Linked DNA regions of Homo sapiens: region 1 is linked to region 2. Evidence: fine-mapped QTL for protein levels in blood plasma. A gene starts in region 2. The other region holds a variant in brackets. All regions are shown on one strand. Distances are between the middles of the regions.

Evidence for each region. PIP is the chance, under the fine-mapping model, that this variant and not a neighbour inherited with it causes the effect. Protein levels are from antibody-based Olink assays in UK Biobank. Linkage for the fine-mapping came from a reference panel and not from the study's own genotypes, which makes the PIPs less certain.
Region 1: its variant is fine-mapped to the plasma level of the LAMA4 protein (UK Biobank, PIP 0.95).

What each region holds. Positions count from the first base shown.
Region 1 is chr6:112,134,303-112,144,875 of GRCh38, reverse strand. LAMA4 (laminin subunit alpha 4) reads left to right here. Exons shown (of 39, transcript NM_001105206.3): 19 at 1-82; 20 at 2,584-2,757; 21 at 3,373-3,518; 22 at 3,954-4,116; 23 at 4,991-5,124; 24 at 5,585-5,756; 25 at 8,622-8,753; 26 at 10,267-10,409. The region is part of intron 1 of LOC107986633 (a long non-coding RNA gene); the gene reads right to left. Among named protein-coding and RNA genes, the nearest start is that of FAM229B, 52 kb to the right of the region's middle. RefSeq lists an enhancer at 2,861-4,060. The variant A/G (reference allele first, on the strand shown) is at 6,528.
Region 2 is chr6:112,248,737-112,259,309 of GRCh38, reverse strand. It overlaps LAMA4 (laminin subunit alpha 4), which reads left to right and starts at 4,743. Exons shown (of 39, transcript NM_001105206.3): 1 at 4,743-4,851; 2 at 5,019-5,354. The coding sequence starts at 5,160. All of the region lies in intron 2 of LAMA4-AS1 (LAMA4 antisense RNA 1), which reads right to left.

The DNA of each region.
Region 1 (10,573 bases), 110 kb after region 2:
GAAGCGACCTGCAAGCAACGTTTCTGCCAGCATCCAGAGGATCCGAGAGCTCATTGCTCAGACCAGAAGTGTTGCCAGCAAGGTAACTGATGAAAAGACTCATCAGTCAGTCAGCGGTAATAATAACACGAAGCTGAGCTCCAACTGCTTGGGCAGCTTCCAGAGCCTGGACCTTTCTGCTGTATTCTCCAACTCAGTAGTTCTCAGCCCCATTTGCTAATTAGAAACACGTGAGGAACACTGAAAACGAAACCAATTCCTGGTCCCAACCTGAAAGCAATAGATCAGACTCTGTAGAGAAAGGGCTCAGTACCTGTATGTTCTTTAAAGCTCCCAGGTTATTCTAATGTGTAGCCAGGTTTAAAAACCACAGAGTTAAACTAGTCAATAAAGCTAATATAGCAAAAGAAGTAAAGCCTCAATAAAAGCCTCAATTCGTTCTTATATTTTATGTTATTTTAACAGCTGCTTTAGTGCAATTACCATAATGGAATAATCTATCCCATCTGTCCTACCCCTTCAAGAAATTATCTGGTACAACACAAATTATGCAGAAGCTTTTACTGACCACCCGCAGGGTTAACTGAGGAATCACATACTGGCTAAGAGGAATAAACTCAACAAACACACTATATGTGTTTTGGGACACATATAGAAGCAACTTAGCAGAAGATAACTAGGGCTGGCATTTGTAGGAACATCTCCTGACATAGCAATTACTTTTCAATGTGGCAAAGTGGAGCTTGTTCTTGGACCTCTTGAATTTTTTTAATTGATTCATAGACCAGACTCACTTTTTATGACCAAAGTATATGGTTTTATTTTCTCAGTTAAGAATCGGCCTGAGCAGACTACTGGTCCTAATTACTGACAGAAAGAAGAGTTAGAAATCAACTATTTCGTAATGTAGAAGATTATTCTTGGTAAATAGACCTGACTTTTAAATGATGATAAATGGTCCCTTGTGACAAATTACCTTATTTAGATGCCCCAGTGAACATTTTCAAAAAAGGTTTATCTAAAGGTACATCAAGAAATGGCATTCTAAAAGCTAGGTTTTTATGAGTGCTTTCTTGTAATATTATTTCTATAAAGAGTATGACTTTGGGACCTTAATCACCTAAGACCATTTGCTAAAGACAGACTTAGCCCCACCTTTGGGAGTTGGGAGCTCACTCAGTGCCCCCAAGTGGGATGCTTTTCATGCAGACATGCACTATTCTCAGACTCTCACTTATTAATGTAAGACTTTAATCCCCCACACTGCTTGTTTATTAAGATGTATTGGTCTTGGCCGGGTGCGGTGGCTCATGCCTGTAATCTCAGCACTTTGGGAGGCCAAGGTGGGCAGATCCCTTGAGTCCAGGAGTTTGAGACCAGCCTGGCCAACATGGCAAAACCCTGTCTCTACCAAAATACAAAAATTGGCTGGGCGTGGTGGCGCACACCTGTAGTCCCAGTTACTCAGGAGGCTGAGGCACGAGCATTGTTTGAACCTGGGAGATGGAGGTTGCAGTGAGCTGACATTGTGCTACTGCACTCCGGCCTGGGTGACAGTGAGACTGTGTCTCAAAAAAAAAAAAAAAAAAAAGTATTAGTTTTTACTCAACTGATAACATAGGACAGCTGCACTCCAGTCATTTGGAAATAGAGCCTTGAGCTCACTGACCACCCACATTAGCCAAATCAATATTAATAAATTAATATAAAGATGCCTAATCATTTGGAAAGATTCAGATAAATGACATAAGTATACACAATCCATACACTTGTAAATACTCTAAAAATTATCCCTGAATCAGACCAGCTCAGCATATCATATTGGGCCTCTTAGAAATGCACTTACTGAATTGTGCTTTGTTGTGATGCCTTTCTGTGAGCCATTATAAGAGGCACCTTATGAACTCATTATTACAGTTATTATAATGGTAGGACCAGGCACTGGAAAGCACTTTATAGTTATCGTATTTCATGCTCACAACAAATTTATTATCCTCATTTCACAGATGAGGAAACTGAAGGTTAAGTGACTTGCTCAAGGTTACATAGTTAGGAAGTGGTAGAGCCCACCTGGTCTGAGACTACAAAGCTAGTCCAGACCCCTCCCAACTGTGTAGACAAGGGCAAGGATGTTGCTCACAGCCTCACCCCATGTCCCTTTTATGAGGACCCTAGGGACAAAGTCCCAGCTGTATTAGTAACCAAAATTAGTTCTACTTCTCCCAAACAATTAGTTTTGTATAAATTGTATGAGCCTTGTGAATTGTATACTGACCAGACAACTTGAGCAAGTTGTTTAGTTCACCCAAACCAAGTATACTGTTCATGGTGGAATTCATATTTATCCTCATTCTTGGATCTACTTAGTCACCACTTTTTTTTTGCTTTCTTTCACCCCACTTTAAACTACTGTGTCACAATCTGCCCTAAGTCTTCTCTTCAACTAGGGGAGGATGTGGTAAATAACTACAGGTATGGAGGTGAAGAGAGTTTATAGGCCCCTGTCACGAATGAGGGAAGCACGGGAAAGCACTCTGCCCATTTCTGCAAAGCACTTTTAATGAAACCGTTGTGTCACTCCAGATCCAAGTCTCCATGATGTTTGATGGCCAGTCAGCTGTGGAAGTGCACTCGAGAACCAGTATGGATGACTTAAAGGCCTTCACGTCTCTGAGCCTGTACATGAAACCCCCTGTGAAGCGGCCGGAACTGACCGAGACTGCAGATCAGTTTATCCTGTACCTCGGAAGCAAAAACGTAAGCACATGAGTTTGAAAGGAGGGAATAATATTTACAAGGAAAGCTGCTTTTTCTCTTGCCTAAAATAAAGCCACCTAGGCAAACAAACCAAAACAATGCCCATTCTGGTAACTCAGAAGATCTCATTTTAATGGCAAAATTAAAAGAATGACTAAAGGACAAGTCATTTCTTCTCTGTGTGGGATATTGTGGGGATTGTTTCCTATCACCATCACACTACTAACTTTGATGAGTCTGAATGAAACACCTCAAAGACTTTCAGAAAGACAGAAGCCTATTCTGTTTGATGCTGAATCCTGTTTAGAGATGCATAGTGATCGGTACTGTCAGGCTGTATTATATTCCTGGGTTAGCCTCACAAAATTAGCCCATTCCTGGCAGCCAACAAATTTCCACGAGCCTGAGCAAGATGGGGCCAGCAGACTCTGATGTGGCCACAGGGAGGCTGGAAAGGAAGAGACACTGCCTGCTCACAGGAGCTTCGGATAATAATTCAGGCCAGAAGTCACTTGTATATACCCAAATATTTGGATTTCTGATTGTCCTTTAAAAAAGATGATGTTCATTCTTATGAATTTTATTTAAATGACTTCTTACTTCTTGATATTTCAGGCCAAAAAAGAGTATATGGGTCTTGCAATCAAAAATGATAATCTGGTATACGTCTATAATTTGGGAACTAAAGATGTGGAGATTCCCCTGGACTCCAAGCCCGTCAGTTCCTGGCCTGCTTACTTCAGCATTGTCAAGATTGAAAGGTACAGTGAATCCATGACACAGGGCATATATGCACATATCACAAGAAACCTGTTGAACGTGCACATGTGCGTGCACACACACACACACATACACAGTCTTCCTGTGGATGTTATAAATAGCATTTTCCTCCCTTTATTCTTGCTCCGTTTTCTTCCATTATTCTTATATTCTTTCCCAAACACCTTAGTAGGAAAGAAAAAAAAAAGTCATTTCTAAATCACGATCTGATTATTAGATTTTACCTGGTCAATCCATGAATTAACTTCAAAATGGAATGTCTTTCTTCTCTTTCTCATTGATTGTGGTATTTTGTAAATGCTTATTAGTGTCACAAAATTACCCATTTTGTGATGAGGGAGCATTAACATTTTGACATTTAAAAAGTATTTTCTATGAATTATATAATAACAAGTGAAAATTATTTATCTCAATAGGGTGGGAAAACATGGAAAGGTGTTTTTAACAGTCCCGAGTCTAAGTAGCACAGCAGAGGAAAAGTTCATTAAAAAGGGGGAATTTTCGGGAGATGACTCTCTGCTGGACCTGGACCCTGAGGACACAGTGTTTTATGTTGGTGGAGTGCCTTCCAACTTCAAGGTCAGCCATACAGCTATATTTTGACCTATTACAAATCTACAGTAATTGTTTTTATAAATCCATAAACCTATAATGACTTGGGGGTTGCTGATATCACTTTAAGAGCTTAGTTCATGGGGGAGTAGAATTCTGAACCAGAATCTATAAACCTGATGTGTAAATCTGGTCTATGCTACTCATATTTTCATAATGTCAAATGCTTTCAAGTTATAGCTAACTCCTGAAGATCAGTTCATTCATTCTGATACATGCATATGTAATTAATATTACCCCCACCTGCCACAGGAAGGTCCGTAGCTTGTGGTGTCACCACAGTTTAGATCTAATCTTCAGCTTTGCAGTGGTGGTTTCAAAAATTCAGTTATCTCACCTAATACAGGTATGAAATAAAGTATCTGGGATGAGAGAGGGGGTGAGACTTCGGAGAGAGTATGAAATCTGATGAAGGGGGATAAAGGAAAGGTCGAAGAAGATGGGAAGTTGATCTAGGGTTCCAATTTCAGGACTATTATTACTAGTTATGGGCACATAATTGGAATTTATCTGAGAATTATTTTCCCTCTCATTATATGAGAACAAGAATACCTACCTAACAAAGCTGGCGCAAGGACTGATTTTTGTCATGAATTCACTGTACAGCCTATGACCAGCACATAATCTATGCTCAGTAAATCCCACTTTCTCTGCTAAGATTTGCACAACTGACAAGTTACGCCATATCTAAATGATTTGGCATAAACACACTCGGGTCTAGAAAGATATTTCCACAAAGGGGTAGGTCTCCTTGACCTACTATTAGTTGCATTGTCTGTTCTGTGATGTCTGAGTAAAATATGACCATGAGACAAGTGGTTTTACTTTTTCTATTGCATAGCTCCCTACCAGCTTAAACCTGCCTGGCTTTGTTGGCTGCCTGGAACTGGCCACTTTGAATAATGATGTGATCAGCTTGTACAACTTTAAGCACATCTATAATATGGACCCCTCCACATCAGTGCCATGTGCCCGGTAAGAGACAGTTAAGAGTACTAAAGACTTGGATATTCATGCAAGAGCAGCAGATAGAACAAGTATGAGTCAATATTCAGGTTCTCAAACTTTTCTTTGGGGAAGCCAGTTTTGAAACTACATAAGTCATACCTGCAAAAAACTCTTCACCTGTTCTCTATCATAGATGAGCATGCCCAAGTATGAAGTGTTAAACAACTTGTTTGCAGCCTTGATTAAGGATTCCAGAGACTAGGGTGTCCCTGGAGACTTCAGTTGTCTTAGCACACAGGATACAGAAGAAAACAATCCATTTAACATACCTACAAATACCTCTTTATCTCTTCCTTGCAGACAACAGGACTTCATTTAAATGTTGTAAGGTCCACAGAAGATGTTAGAAGAATGGGTTAAAAGGGCTTCACTTGAAAAGCATAACAGAAACTGTAGTGTTCAAATGACCGTTGTGTTTCCATTTCAGAGATAAGCTGGCCTTCACTCAGAGTCGGGCTGCCAGTTACTTCTTCGATGGCTCCGGTTATGCCGTGGTGAGAGACATCACAAGGAGAGGGAAATTTGGTCAGGTGACTCGCTTTGACATAGAAGTTCGAACACCAGCTGACAACGGCCTTATTCTCCTGATGGTCAATGGAGTGAGTAAAAATACAAGTCCTACTACTTCTCCTTTATTTCCTTTACTTTCTGCTACTCATGTTTCCAGGAACCTTCCCAGGTCTAGTGTGTCATGCCATCAAACTGAAATTCTAGTTTAGAAAGTCAAATTGGATTTTCTTCTTCAGGAAAGTAATGACAGCAATAAATAAAAGCAACCCTGAGATGCATTTCCCCACAGTACATTTTTGGATATAAATAAACTAAGAGAACTTTGAGGAAATTAGAACCAAGATCTAGATGAGCAGGGTGTCTGCAGAAATTTTGCACTGGGCTCCTAACTTTTCCAAACCATATGCCCTAATCAATTTTAAAGCAAAGCTTGCATGCTTTGTATATATGTATGTGTGTATGTAAGTATATATGTATGTACACACACACACATATATATCTTTGTTTATAAATGATACATGTGTACTATAAACAGATATAAATATAGTATGAAACAGTCAAAGCTTGTAATAAAGGACAAATTATATAAAGATAAAATAAAAGATTATATATTTAAAATGAAGATTAAATTGACTTATTTATTAATGATACAGAAATGTTTTTCTCACTAAAATTATTTTTAATAGTACTTTATCTACTGTACAGCTCAAAGAAAATAGTTTTAGTGAGAAAATGTAATTAAGTATGCTAAATATTTTCAAAAATCCTTAAACTCTTTGTGACACAGTGATTCAAAAGTCTTGTCCTAAGTCCAGTTTATTTCAACAGTAATTTTATTGGTGGTTGTAACTAGACAAGAC[A/G]CCTCACAAAAATAAAAAATGAAAGAACCATATCATTAGCTGTGCCTACTAACTCAAATAGTTTTCAATCACATTCACCAAGTGGCAAAGGTTGTCTTTGAGATTTGATTGGTGTATTTCCTTTTTTCTAATATTAGTTCTTGTAAGCTAACCAGGTATCATTTTGTAAACTTTAATAAAAGGGTTCAAAGCTATTGAAAATCTTTATTTGAAATATTTTTCTAAAGGTTAGAAATTTCTTCCCTCAAATGTTTTAATAGAGCTGATAGGAGAGTTTTTGTAGGATTGCATTTACATTGTTCCCATCAACAAAAGCAACAATAGAAAAATTCCCAAACATATTTTTTAAAAACCATCTCTCCACAGTATAACCGTCCTCAAAAAAAAGGAGAAAAAGTTACTTTCTCATCCATTATTATGATAATACCCTTACATTGATGTGACAGTATGTTTCTTTTTTGAAATAACTAGTAGGATTCATACTACTGTCAGACATTTGTCATCACGAATAAAGTTCAACAAATTTAGAATAATTCATGTTACAAAGAAAAATGTGTAACCCTCTATAAACTTAACAGCATTTTCAGAAATTTGTAGGAAGTAGCCAGCAAATATCTGTGTGTCTCAAAATGTTTTCACATCACTCTACATCTCAATACAAAATGAGTGTAAATATTCTATTATTTCGGTTATATCAGCCTTAAATCCATATAACTAGCCACACGTAAACTGCAATAAATTGCAATAGGCTAGAAGCAAAGAAATGGATGAGGAGCTACCTTCAACTCTTCAAGTGTGGAACCCCTCTTGGGAAGCCACACATATTATGTGAATTTTGTGAAAGTCTGACAAAAGGATAAAATGAAGGCCCAGAGTCAATAATTCATGTGTTAAATATTAAAAGTTAGTTTCTTTCTCTATTTTAGATTTTTTAGTGAGTATAAATGGATGTTGAAATATTTTCTTCTCTATTTCAGGTTTTTTTAAATTAGTATAAATAGAAGTTGAAATATTTTCTTCCTAAACTCCAGTAGGCTGCTTTCCACACTCCCAGGAATGTACAAACTCCACTCAGGAGATCACTTCCTATAGAATAGGGACCTTGCCACAATGCTTTATTTTTCAAATCCATTGACTTCTTGTATCTATGAACTATCTTCTGAAACAAGCAAAACTCCAGTAAATTATTTGAGTGTTACAAAATTTCTTTGATTCTTAAACATCATGTGTTCCAAGTGCATAATAATTCTATATTTATTTACATAAATCCAGTGTTTCAAAACAATACAGCAATGGCCTTCTTTTTTTAAATCCATATTTGCTGATAATATGGAAGAATTCTTTTCAGTATACCTTGAAATTATTTTTTAATTTTACTAATTTTCACCTAAAATAAATGCAGACACATCTGTTGGCCTGTTATAATTTTTAAAAGTTTCCTAAAGACAAGGCAGTTGAATAAACATGGTATACTATACTCTATTTTCAAGATTTTCTTAAAAGGCAATAATGTAGACTTAAAACTTCATCCATTAGTTCAGAAAGTAGAATGAAAACAGAAGAATTTTTACACTGTGTATAAATATTAACTTTTATGTATTAATAAGAGAAATAGCTGCTGATATGGAAGTAGTTGTCACTTTTTTTTTTTTTTTTTGAGACAGAGTCTCGTTCTGTAGCCCAGGCTGGAGTGCAGTGTCACGATCTCGGCTCACTGTAACTTCCACCTCCCGGGTTCAAGCGATTCTCTTGCCTCAGCCCCCTGAGTAGCTGGGATTACAGGTGCCTACCACCACGCCTGGCTAGTTTTTGTATTTTTAGTAGAGATAAGGTTTTGCCATGTTGGCCAGGCTGGTCTCAAACTCCTGGCCTCAAGTGATCCACCTGCCTCGGCCTCCCAGAGTGCTGGGATTACAGGTGTGAGCCACCACTCCCAGACACTGTCACTTTTATTTCATAAGAATTTCATGAGACTTTCTTAGTCTTCAAATAGTTCCAGTAATAAAGAATACAGTCTTATTTCTCAAATTCAGCTAAATCTGACTCTACTCGCATAACAGATGTTCCTATCTTACAATTCCTTTCTCTCCTCAGAGTATGTTTTTCAGACTGGAAATGCGCAATGGTTACCTACATGTGTTCTATGATTTTGGATTCAGCGGTGGCCCTGTGCATCTTGAAGATACGTTAAAGAAAGCTCAAATTAATGATGCAAAATACCATGAGGTACAAATCATTGTAGTTTGGTTGGTTTTGTTTTTGTTCTTTATACTTAGATCTGTTGATCTAATCAGGCAGTCAAATGAGACAGGCAGGATGGTAAATAAACTGAGAACTTTCATATCTAAAGAGCAACTGAAGGACCCTCATCTTCTCAACCCTAGGAAAACATTTACTTTAAAACATTGGATGTATTTTTCCTGTTGATGTTCCAATTTAAAAGTCACTGAAAGATTCCTTTTAATTGCTTAATTAACCAGAAGGCTTCTATTAATCTTAAATATCTCAATTGGTATTCCTACAGGATACTTCTATACATTTGTTGAATGAGCCAGAGTGTAGATACACAGCCTTTTTTTGCTTATCCTTTGAGCCCCACCAAATTTAACAAGAATACATATAAGTAAATACAGAATTTCCTTTTAAACCACTTATCCAGAATTTAGAAAATACTAGCACAGTTTTCCTTATAAAGAGAACTCACAAAGAATCCCCTTTAGTTTTGAAACAGATGTGCAGACTACTGAAAATATACTTCATCCATTTTCATTAACTATTTTAAATATACAACTTAATAAAGTGTATACAAGGCATAATATCTTTTAAGTTGAACCAAAATGCGAAGGGTAGGAGACTGTATTTCCCTTTTCAGTTCAAAGTCCATAGCCTCATGAGAATGGTTTACAATAAAAGAATATTTTAACTATTTCTCTGACTAGCATTTTTGCAGATTCATTAGAACTGCTCACTGTGTCACCAAAAAAATTACACCTGGTAACATGCAATCTAGATTCCAGAAGGCACCTGCTTGGGAATACAATAGGGGTCACCAGGGGTTAGGGGATAGGGAAATAAGAAATTGCTGTTCAATGTGTATACAGTTTCAGTTGTGCTAGGTGAGTAAGTTCTCGAAATCTGCTGTACAGCATGGAGCCTATAGTTAAAACTAATTTAAAATTTATTTAGGATAGATCTCATGTTAAGTGTGCGTAACACACATGCTCACACACACACACACACCACAAAGGGACACAAGGAAATGCTGGGAAATGTGTGATATGTCTCTTACCTTGATTGTAAGATGATATGAGTGTTTGCATATGTCCAAGCTCATCAAATTGTATACATAAAATATGTGTAGTTCTTTGTATGTCAACTAGACTTGAATAAAGTTGTTTTTTTAAAAAAAAAGAGAATGGTGGCACCTGTTTATAGTTCTTTCCTGAATCCTCTCAGAAGGAGCAGGAGGAAACAATAGGTCTAATCGCAAAATTTTTCTTGGGCTGGCTCCTCTTCATACAGACCTCCTTTCCCAGAAAGTGTGAACTGCTGCTTGTAGAAGCAAGAGTTTTCAAGTCTGTGAGAAAAGAAAATCTATCTATTCCCCATTTTGTGAACAAACAAGCACAAAGGCATGGAAGAACAGCTAGTATACCAGGAGAATTAAAATATATAGAAGTCATCAAAGAACTGAATATTAAATAGTTAATCAAGGCTTACTATATATTATCTCTCCCAGATCTCAATCATTTACCACAATGATAAGAAAATGATCTTGGTAGTTGACAGAAGGCATGTCAAGAGCATGGATAATGAAAAGATGAAAATACCTTTTACAGATATATACATTGGAGGAGCTCCTCCAGAAATCTTACAATCCAGGTAAGGCTTTTTGTTAAGTAGCTGTTTGTTCCTAGCAATGTACTGGGCTGGCAACATCCAGGAGAGGTCTAGTAACAGTGTACGCACCCTTACTTGCTACTTTTACACACAGGGACAGGCACAGGTACACACATTCATGTACCTTCAGGCCCTCTGCAGTCAGT
Region 2 (10,573 bases):
CAAAAATAGCTCGGCCTAGTTGGGAAAGTATTGGTCTGGGAGTTGGATGGTGTGGGGGCCCTCGTTTTGTACTAACGGGCTTAGTGTCCTTGTAGGCACTGTGAGCGTCTCTGCATGTCCGTGCTGTCTTCTATGCATTGTGGATGATGGAGCAGCACCCCTGTCATCACGGGGTAGATAGGTGTCCCGAAAACGATGACAGCCATGAAAAGACTGGGTGAACACCAAGCCTCAATCCCAGGAGGGAGAGAAAGGGAGAGCCGTGATAAGAAAGCAGCCGCACTAGAAATGCTTCCCAGTTGCCCTTGTGGCAGGAATAAAATCCTCCTACACTCAGGTGTTTGGTGGTCAAGGAGTGGCCCTTTGGTGAGGAGGTAACTCACCAAAGGTTTCTGCTGCCTTTTAACTTGCTGTAAATTAGTCAGCCGTGCTCTCTCCTCATCTGCTTGACCTATGACTCTGTGGCCCATGACTGCCTCATTCCTGGTTAATGCAAGGAAGGGCCCAGTAGCAGCCAGAAATGTGAATGGCTATTCTCAAACATGGGAGGTTACCTACACCAGGATAAATAAAATGGTTGCCTTTCCTCTTTTACAATAGTCATTTTGTTCTTCTTTAAGATTTGAAAATATAGTAAGGCAGGTCCCAGAATAACATTGTTTCTTTCAATGTTGCTTTGTCATAATATTGGTGAGAAAAAAAAAAAAATCAATTCCTGGCTGGAGCCACTGTCTGTGTGGAATTTGCAAGTTCTCACGTGAGTTTTCTCCAGGTACTTCAGTTTCCTCCCACATCTCAAAGATATCCTCGTTCCTTGGTACGTCTGCATGGTTCCAGTCTTAGTGAGTGTGGCTGTGTGTGTGTGAGCGTGCCCGGCAATGGAATGGCCTTCTGTCCAGGGTCCCCAGCTTGAACTCTGAGCTGCCAGTATGGGCTCCAGCCACCCAACACTCTGAGTTGGAAAAAGCAGGTTGGAAAATGATTGAATAATGAACAAAAATTGTTATCAAATAAAAATTCATGAAGTCTACAATAATCATACAGGCATATGACAATAAATGATGCTGCATGGAAGCGTTCAGCGAGCCCATCATATTTGTTGTTGGGTTTTTTTGAATTGCATGGTGGTAGGAGGTGCTTATAATTTTTGCTTTAAAACATTTATTCCTTGCTTTAACCCACCACCACTATGACTGCTGTCACTCACTGATTCACCAAACATTGGGTAAATAATTCTCACACTTGTTTCTATTAATCTTTCTGAAATGTACGTATAGCTCACATTTATTTTCATATTTACCATTAGAAGCATTTTGGTCTTTCTTTAGAAGTTTAGTGATGTTTTTGTGACCAGAACTATGTCATAGGAATTTAAATAAATCTTAATTATGTCAATTAGCCTAAGGTAAAATTGGCTTCATTGTATGTTGTTTTGCTTAAAGTTGCAGTTTCCAAGAACATATAGATAATGTTAAATGGGGGCTTATTGTATAATTAAATAGTATTTATTGAGCTCTGACTACATGCTAGTCTGTGTTAATGTTTATTTATATTCTTTCATTTACTACCCATAATAATTCAGTGAAAATGTTACCAGAAAGAGGTTTCAATCCAGACCCCAAGAGAAGGTTCTTGGATCTCACGCAACAAAAAATTCCAGGCGAGTCCATAGAGTTAAGTAAAGCCAAGTTTATTCAGAAAGTAAAGGAATAAAAGAATGGCTACTCCACAGGCAGAGCAGCCTCAAGGGCTGCTGATTGCCTATCTTTATGGTTATTTCTTGATTATATGCTAAACAGGGTGTGGATTATTCATGAGTTTCCTGGGAAAGGAGTCGGCAATTTCTGGGAACCTAAGGGTTCCTCCCTTTTTTAGACCATATAGGGTAACTCCCTGATGTTGCCATGGCATTTATAAGCTGTCATGGTGCTGGTGGGAGTGTATTTTAGCATGTTAGCGCAATATAATTCACGTATAATGAGCAGTGAGTCCGACCAAGGTCACCACCTTGGTTTTGTTGGGATTTGACTGCCTTCTTTACCGCATGCTGTTTTATCAGCAAGGTCTTTGTGACCTGTATCTTATGCTGATCTCCTGTCTCATCCAGTGAGTTAGAATGCCTAACCTCCTCCAAACGCAGCCCAGTAGGTCTCAGTCCTATTTTACCCAGCCCCTATTCAAGATGGAATTGCTCTAGTTGAAATGCCTATGACAAAAAGGCATCATTATGCCCATTTTACAGGGAAGGAAACTTTCAGAGGGACTAAGTTACATGCCAAGCTCCCAAAAGTACTACATGCAGACCCAGGATTTGAACCCTGTTTTATTTTATACAAAACCCATCCCCCTGCATATTATGCCATTTTGTCTCAAAAACAATAATAGTACCCACAGAAAGAAGATGAAGAGGAAGAGCTGGGAGCACATATTTAACCAAAAATAAGAAGTCCATAGGTCTTGGACGAATACACTCCTACCAGCACTGGGCAGGCAGACAGAAGAGGGCCCAGATTAAATTAAAAAGTGTGTGATTAATTGGCAGCTAGTAAAGAACAAGATGAAATCCTTCAGAAAACAAATATATGAGTTTTGGTGAGCTGAAGAGATCTGTATCTGAAGTCAGAATATTTAATATACATCATATATAATTAATATTATTATTATTTAATGTTCTTTTAAAGGGTGACTGGGTCAGTATAACTGAGCATAATCTGTTTTGTCTCAGAGTCTGGCTATCTTTTTTCCCAATATCAGTCTCTCAACTAAACCAAACATGTTTTTAACTTCTCCCACTTAATTTAGTAGGTTAACAAGTCTATGTAAAAGAAGAGTATCATAATTTAGCTTAATAGTCCCTTGCAATACTATTTTAATATTTTAAAATCAAAATATCACTTTAAAACCTATAGGAATTATTTTTGCTTCCTTTGGCTTTGGTTCTTTTGTATCATACAATTTTATCATTTAAAATCAAAGATCTTACCATCAGATTTACCTGGGCTATAGTAGTAATTTTACCACTTACCCATGGCCAAATGTGTATGACAATCCCTACTTCATGAGATTATCATAAAGATGAAATTAAATGAGACAATTTTTTTTTTTTTTTTTTTTTTTTTTTTTGAGCTGGAGTCTTTCTCTGTCACCCAGGCTGGAGTCAGTGGTAAAATCTCTGCTCACTGCAACCTCCACCTCCCGGGTTCAAGCAATTCTCCTGCCTCAGCCTCCCGAGTAGCTGGGACTACAGGCGCCTCCCACCATGCCTGGCTAAATTTTGTATTTTTAGTAGAGACGGGGTTTCACCATGTTGGCCAGGCTGGTATCGAACTCCTGACCTCATGATCCACCCACCTTGGCCTCCCAAAGTGCTGGGATTACAGGCATGAGCCACCACGCCCAGCCCTAAATGAGACAATTTATGTGATTTTTTTGCACATGGGAGGCACTCAAAAAATAAAAGTGTCCATTTCCTTCACCTCTGAATTCATACTCTTTATTTTAAAGTTGCAGTGTCGTGTATACAGATGTAAAAGAGAGCTTTGGAATCAGTGAGGCCTGGATCCAAACCCCATCTCTGCTTTCCACCAGCTGTGCGACCTTGGGCAAATGTCCTAGTCTCTCTGAACCTCACTTTCTTCTTCTGTAAAAGGAAAATAATGGTACTACTTTGCAGGAATGCTGAGGTTTACAAATAGCATATGCCAAGTATCTGGCACATGTTAGGTGCAAAATAAATGGTTTTGCTTACACTTAGATAAAATGACTTTTGTTCTATGAAATGGAGCTAATGATTAGGTTTTATGGAAAGGCTTTATTTATTTATTTTATGATTAGGTTATACAAAAATGCTTTATTTCACCTGGAAGCTTACCTGGGTGTCATTTTATGGTTGTCTCATCTGACCATTTTTAAACCATGGTTGGATCTTGTGGAAATGTTTAGAGCTCGTTATGAAGCCAATGTAAACAAAGGTACCTATCAGCTGTTGCAGACACTATCCCATCCACAGGGGCACCCCTGACATAGCTGTAGCCCAACTTCACCCTGAAGTCTTGGAAAGGTTACATGATTCAGACAGATGTAGTAGGCATGAGATTACAGGCCAAGAGGAAGAGGCCGGGGCTGTAGGCAGTATACTTGACAGGCTCATACACTGCAAGCCTTGTTCCGGGCCCCTTACAAAGCACCTCTTTAGGATGAAAACAAGATGGTCTTTGTAAATAAAAGTTCATGCATTTGGGTAATGAAGTCATTTTCCAGCGCTGCAGTGAAAGATATTCTTCTCCCAAGCCCTCTGGGTGAGGACTGGAGGGAGGAAGAGGGGTGGCCAGTGAATCTGAAGAGAAGATATTAGCACAAAGAGTGCAACAGTCTATCCCCCAGAAAAAACCCGAGAAACCTTGCTCAAGAAAGTGGGCACCCTGACCCTCTGCCTTCAGAGATCATCTACCTTTGGTTCCTGCCCTGGAATCCCTTTTCCACCCACTTTCCTGCAAACTAGCGGGGGCCACATAAAATATCTATGTAAATATAGATAAGACATCCGGTACCTTGACTACATAAATAAGAGTGGTGAGGAAGCGTCACAAAAGCTGAATATTCTTCTGGAGCCCTTGGAGGGGCTCCAAACTGAGAGGGGAGGGAAGACCGCAGGGAAAGGCGGACCTCAGTGTCTGAAAAGCCAGCTTAGAGTGGGAGGGCCTGGGAGTAGAAGGTAAAAAGGGAGTGGTGAGAATGAATGTGAGAAGGAAGCCAGGACAGCGCAGTCCCCAGTCCCGAACGGCCAGGGAGAGGAGGTGGCCTAGCGCTGGCGGGGCTCACCCCAATCCGTCTGCCTTTTGATGCCGTACTGTAAGCTCCGTCCATCTGTAGGTTCTTGAGCCAGAACCTCTGCGGGAAGGAGAAAAAGTGAAAGAGGGAGAGGGAGAGGGAGAGAGAGGGGGAGAAGGGGAGAGAGAGAGAGGGAGAGAGAGGCTGGAACTCTCCCTTACTCTCGCACTTTCCCTTTATTTCCTAAGCTGCTGGTTGCGCAGCCACCTCGGGATACTGCACACGGAGAGGAGGGAAAATAAGCGAGGCACCGCCGCACCACGCGGGAGACCTACGGAGACCCACAGCGCCCGAGCCCTGGAAGAGCACTACTGGATGTCAGCGGAGAAATGGCTTTGAGCTCAGCCTGGCGCTCGGTTCTGCCTCTGTGGCTCCTCTGGAGCGCTGCCTGCTCCCGCGCCGCGTCCGGGGACGACAACGCTTTTCCTTTTGACATTGAAGGGAGCTCAGCGGTTGGCAGGCAAGACCCGCCTGAGACGAGCGAACCCCGCGTGGCTCTGGGACGCCTGCCGCCTGCGGCCGAGGTACAGTGTCCCTGCCATTGCCACCCTGCTGGGGCACCTGCGCCCCCGCGGGCTGTGCCACACTCGTCCTTCTCTCTCTCTCCGCCTCTTTCCTCTCCCCAGTGCCTTGAGAGTTTCACCTGGGCTAGGTCAGTTCGGAAACTTGAAATAAAGAGTTTTCCTTTGTAAGTTGCATTTGGATGTTGAGAGTTGAAAGTTGAGGCTTCGGAATGTGTCTGCTCAAAGGGGTGAGAGTGCATGTGTTGGTGCTCTGAGTTCATCCGCTAGACTCTCACCGGGGACTGCAGCAGCACATCGGTGACTTCTGCCACTTGCGTGTCCCAGTAGTCATTTTGTCAAGCCACGGCACTTAACGTGTGTGCCCTGTCACTGGCTTCCTGCTCCTCTGTGCTGTTAGGACAGTGGGAACACTACTGCAGGATCTTTTTGTCTCATATTAGACAAGAAGTCTTCTGCAGCAGGGAAGGTGAGGGGGTGAGTGAGAGTGGCTGGTCATGAAAGGAGCTGTTAGACAACTGCTGAGAGGGTATCTTAAGTAGAAACGAGCCATTGTATTCCAGAAACAAGATGTTTCCATTAAAATCAAGCCTCAGGATATGCTATTGATAATATGTTTATTCAAAGAGCTGCTGTTTGAATACCTTACAATAGCTTTTAAGTTGGAAACAAAACCAGAATGTAGAGGTCTGGTAAAGGAGAATGAATCCAGAACAAGTGATTTAAGAACCCCTGAACTGAAACAGACAACAGCATGCCCATTGCATGGGACATGCTAAGAGGGAGGAAAATAAAGTCACCTAAGTTCATGGGAAAGGAAGGAGCAATTGACCTAGCAAAACAAACACCACACTCTATAGCTATGGTTACAGCAACTGTACAACTAAAACAGTTATGTGGATTGACACCATTTCTAACATCACTGATGCATGGATTATTGCTATGAATTCTGTTAATTGTTAGTACAATTATAGTTATTAATTATTGATGATTAAAAATAAGGTGCATGAACATGGTCCTTCTTCAGAGTAAGCCCTACCCACATTGCCCCAAAAAAGAGAGTGGACAGGGTCAGAATATGCCAACCTCTCACTGTGGTATAAAATGTAGCCTCCATGAAAAAGAGGGAGCATGGCTTCTGGTCAACTTCATACCCAGAAACTTGGGGAGAAGCCAGACCAGGAGGGACTTCATGCAATGGGAAGGCTTTGCTTCTCTACAGGCTTGGAATTAACCCCAGGGAAGCATTATCTCCACCTGTTGCTTTGAGCACGTAAAGTCCCTGAATGAAATGCTTAATTTTACTTAAGAGTAAAATTGGCAGATAAATTGCAGGACACTCAAATGTGAATTTCAGATAAATAATGAATGAATTTTGATCACATCCCAAATACTGCAGAGGACATATTTATATTAAAATTTGTTTTCATTGTTCATCTGAAATTCAAATTTATCCGGGCATCCTGTATTTGTATCTGTTAGGTCTAAAGAGACAAGCCATATACAACTGTTTTTTGTAACTCTCATCCCACAAAAAAAATAGGAAAGTAATTTTTTGAGTTTTAGAGAACCTTAAAATTAATGCTAAGACCCTAGGAAATTTCTTATGTGCTCATATGTTTGGTGAAATAATAGGAAGGCAGCACAGCAAAGTGTTTCAGATTGCAGGTTTTCAGTCTGATGGTCCCAAGTTGAAATTTCAAGCTCTTTGACCTTGGTCAAGTTACAGATCCCCAGACTGCAGATAAACTGATACTGACAGAATTTATTGATGCCTGCTTCATACCTCATACTTTTATTGTAATGAAATTAGATAAAATAGAGTGCTTAGCATAGTGCTTGACATAGTATAAATGCCCTATATATGCCAAGAGTTGTTACAATTGTTACTATAAAAAATGTGGATGATGATCAGATTAAAAGAAACCCTTATTTGAGAATATTCCTTAGAACCTTATGTTTATGGTTTTCTTTTACTTAATATTATTATATCTGTTTATCTATATTCTTCCAGCTGGAAAAAAAATGTCACGTAGTGAATTAAATTTGTAGTAATGTCAGAGTCTAATAGGTTCAGAATGCCAGTGGAGGCCTTCAGTTTTGAAAAACAGAAAGAAGATATTAGTCATTCCAGGAAGGTCAAAGTATATGGTGTAGAAAGGGTGAGATTGAGGTAATTATGTTCCCACTGCATAGTTTCACATAATGCCTCCAGTTAGCCTGCGGTCCCATGGCGATCCCAACGCCCCACCATCAGGTTTCCCATGCTCTTTATAGCAGTAACCAGACCTTAAACCAAATACATTCCGGAGACTTAATAACATGGTACAAACACTTTACTGGGTTGGCTCAGGAGACTGTATTTGTGTATATGTGGAGAGAGAAAGAGAACACGGACACATTATTCATGGGAGAGGTTCAATGTGTGGATGGGAAGATATTCTAAAAATACATTCTCTTTACTTGGATTTATATGAATGGTTATTCTGCAATTCTCCTTCAGAGGGAATGAAGAAAAATATTAAGGCAAGCATGGAGCAGTGGGAGGTGCTTGGCTGAAGGCCTTCCTGAGGTTCTCCTAAGCTCTTCAATAGCCCAGCTTGTGGACTCTCCATCCCTGAGTACTTGGCCCAAGACACAAACTCTGGCATGCTGTATTGCTCCATGTGAGCTGGGGAACAAATACATGAAATATGCACGGAATAAAAGGATAGAGATTGTTGGCTGACCAAAAAGGAAGTCTCCTCTTTTCCTTGTAAAACAAGCCAAAGCTTCCCCCCAGATGCAAAGTATTTGAAAAGAAGAGCACCTGTGGGTAACTCCGTACTAGTTGTGGGGAGGATTTTCCCACCTTTGCTTCTTGACACTTAATCTACTGAGTCCTTTATTGCTGAGTTTATGGTGAGAACAGTGATTCTCAACAGGTGATTCTCAAAAGGGAAGACTGGGCAGTTTCAATAATGATAATCAGTATTCTAATATTTCACATTAAGGAAAAGAAAGTCTATTCATTCCACCACACACACTATAGCAGGAAAAACTAGGCCAAACTCTTCTTGACCAATATAGATATGGTAGATATGGAAAAGAACTGGTGTGGGGGCAGGAATGAAGATGGGAACACCCCCACAAGAAGCCAGTAACAGAATGTCCTTAGGAAGAATGAGATTCTTGTCCATCAAAAAGAAGTAGGAACTAAACAAGGTCAAGAACATGAGGTTGGAGGTTACATTGTGTGGCTGGAAAGAAGCCACACAGAGACTGAGAAACTGAGAAGGCAAGGACTCTTCTGACAGGGCAAGGTGGAAGGTGGTGGAGGAGGTGACGGTGCTATTACTGGCTTTCACAGATAAATGATAGAATAAGGGATACAATTGACAACATTGAGTTGTCAATGAGTTGCCCCTCAGAGGGGAAAAGAGGAATTTCTCTCCTAGAAACCTCAGTTTTGCTATTGTTGTCATTATTGTTGTGTTAACTTCACTCCAAGAAGATCAGTGCCCATGAACATACCTTACACTGGAAAAACTGACTTGCTAAAAAGAAACTCTATAAAGCAGACTAACTCTGAGGGACTTTTCCTCTTGACTTTTTTCCTTGTTGATACGTGACCCCATGTCCCAGCACATTGTTAGGGTCCTGCCATTAAAAGATTGCAGAATGTTTAATAAAAACATTTTAGATCTCTTTAACCATCTGCTTTCTTTTTTCTTATCTTGGTCACTTGCTTTGAAAAAGGTCCCTTGAGATCACACTAAGACCTCCAGTTGCTAGCCTGGGTTATCACTCTACATTGCTGTTCCAACAATTCAATTAGGTAATCTGAACCCCTTACATGCAGTCATTATTTCATTCATTTATTCACCCAACAAGCTGGTTTGGAGCCTTACCTCGAAAGAGCAATAAAATAGGTACAAGGAGCAATAGAAAGAAGGTATAGTCTCATCTTTGCCCTCAGGGGTGAGCAATTGAAGAGAGAAAAAAAATAAGTGGCCATTATATACAGAACAATGTACTAACATTCTATAAGAGTGGCTACAAGGTAAGTGCCATGGAGGTAATGTGAAAAAAGTATTATTCCTGTGCTAGACCAGTAGGGCACAAAACTTACTTGCCAAACACCAAAATAGGCTTCAAAAACCTTATTTTAGAAGAACTGGAATATAGCAGTGGTGGTAATAGCAATAATAGTATGGCTCATAGCTGATACTCGTTGAGTACTTACCACATGCCGATACTGATGTAAACACTTCCCATGAGTAATTTCCAGTAACTTTCATGACAAATCAATGTGACTGGTATCGTTATTATCTCATTTGATACACATAGAAACCGAGGCACAGAGCATTTGCCCAGGCCCCTGCTTGTAAGCAGCACAGCTAGGAAGGAGTTTATAAAAGCAGTTCAACTGTGCAAAAGTAGCTAGGAAGAGGTGATTAGGTAAATAGAAATATATATAGGAATACTTCTAGTCAAAGTTTTGGGAATTCCTTTTTTTTTTTTTTTTTTTTTTTTTTGAAACAGAGTCTTGCTCTATTGCCTGTCTGGAGTGCAGTGGCTTGATCTCAGCTCACTGCAACCCCTGCCTCCTGAGTTAAAGCGATTCCCCTGCCTCAGCCTCCCAAGTAGCTGGGATTACAGGCACATGCCACAACGCCCAACTAATTTTTCGTATTTTAGTAGAGACAGGGTTTCACCATGTTGGCCAAGATAGTCTCTATCACCTGACCTTATGATCCACCCGCCTCGGCCTCCCAAAGTGCTGGGATTACAGGCGTGAGCCACCGCACCCTGCTGGGAATTTCTTTAAATGAAGAAATATAAAATGCAATTTAAAGACCATTTTTGCAGTGCTTGTTAGATGAGTAGCATAAGTTACAAAAAGTTGAGATAACTTCCCTTCTCCGTCTAGCCTAATGACTACTTTTTAAAACTACTCACGTAAGAAAGAAAAAAACTAATACTTGTTGACTTCTACTATGTCCCATCAACCTCCATGAATTGTCTTAATACTAAATAGTGAAAATTATACCCATTTTACAGATGAGTTCATTGACATTTAAGAGTGGTAATTACCTTAACCAAATTTTCATATTCCTTTCTCTGCTTTCTGTATACCAGGGAGTCTTCCTGATAGAGCACTTTTTTTTTCAACTATAGAGTCTCCTTATCCTATTTTCTCTTTATAATGATATTCTAGGGTGTGTCCTCCACGTGATGCT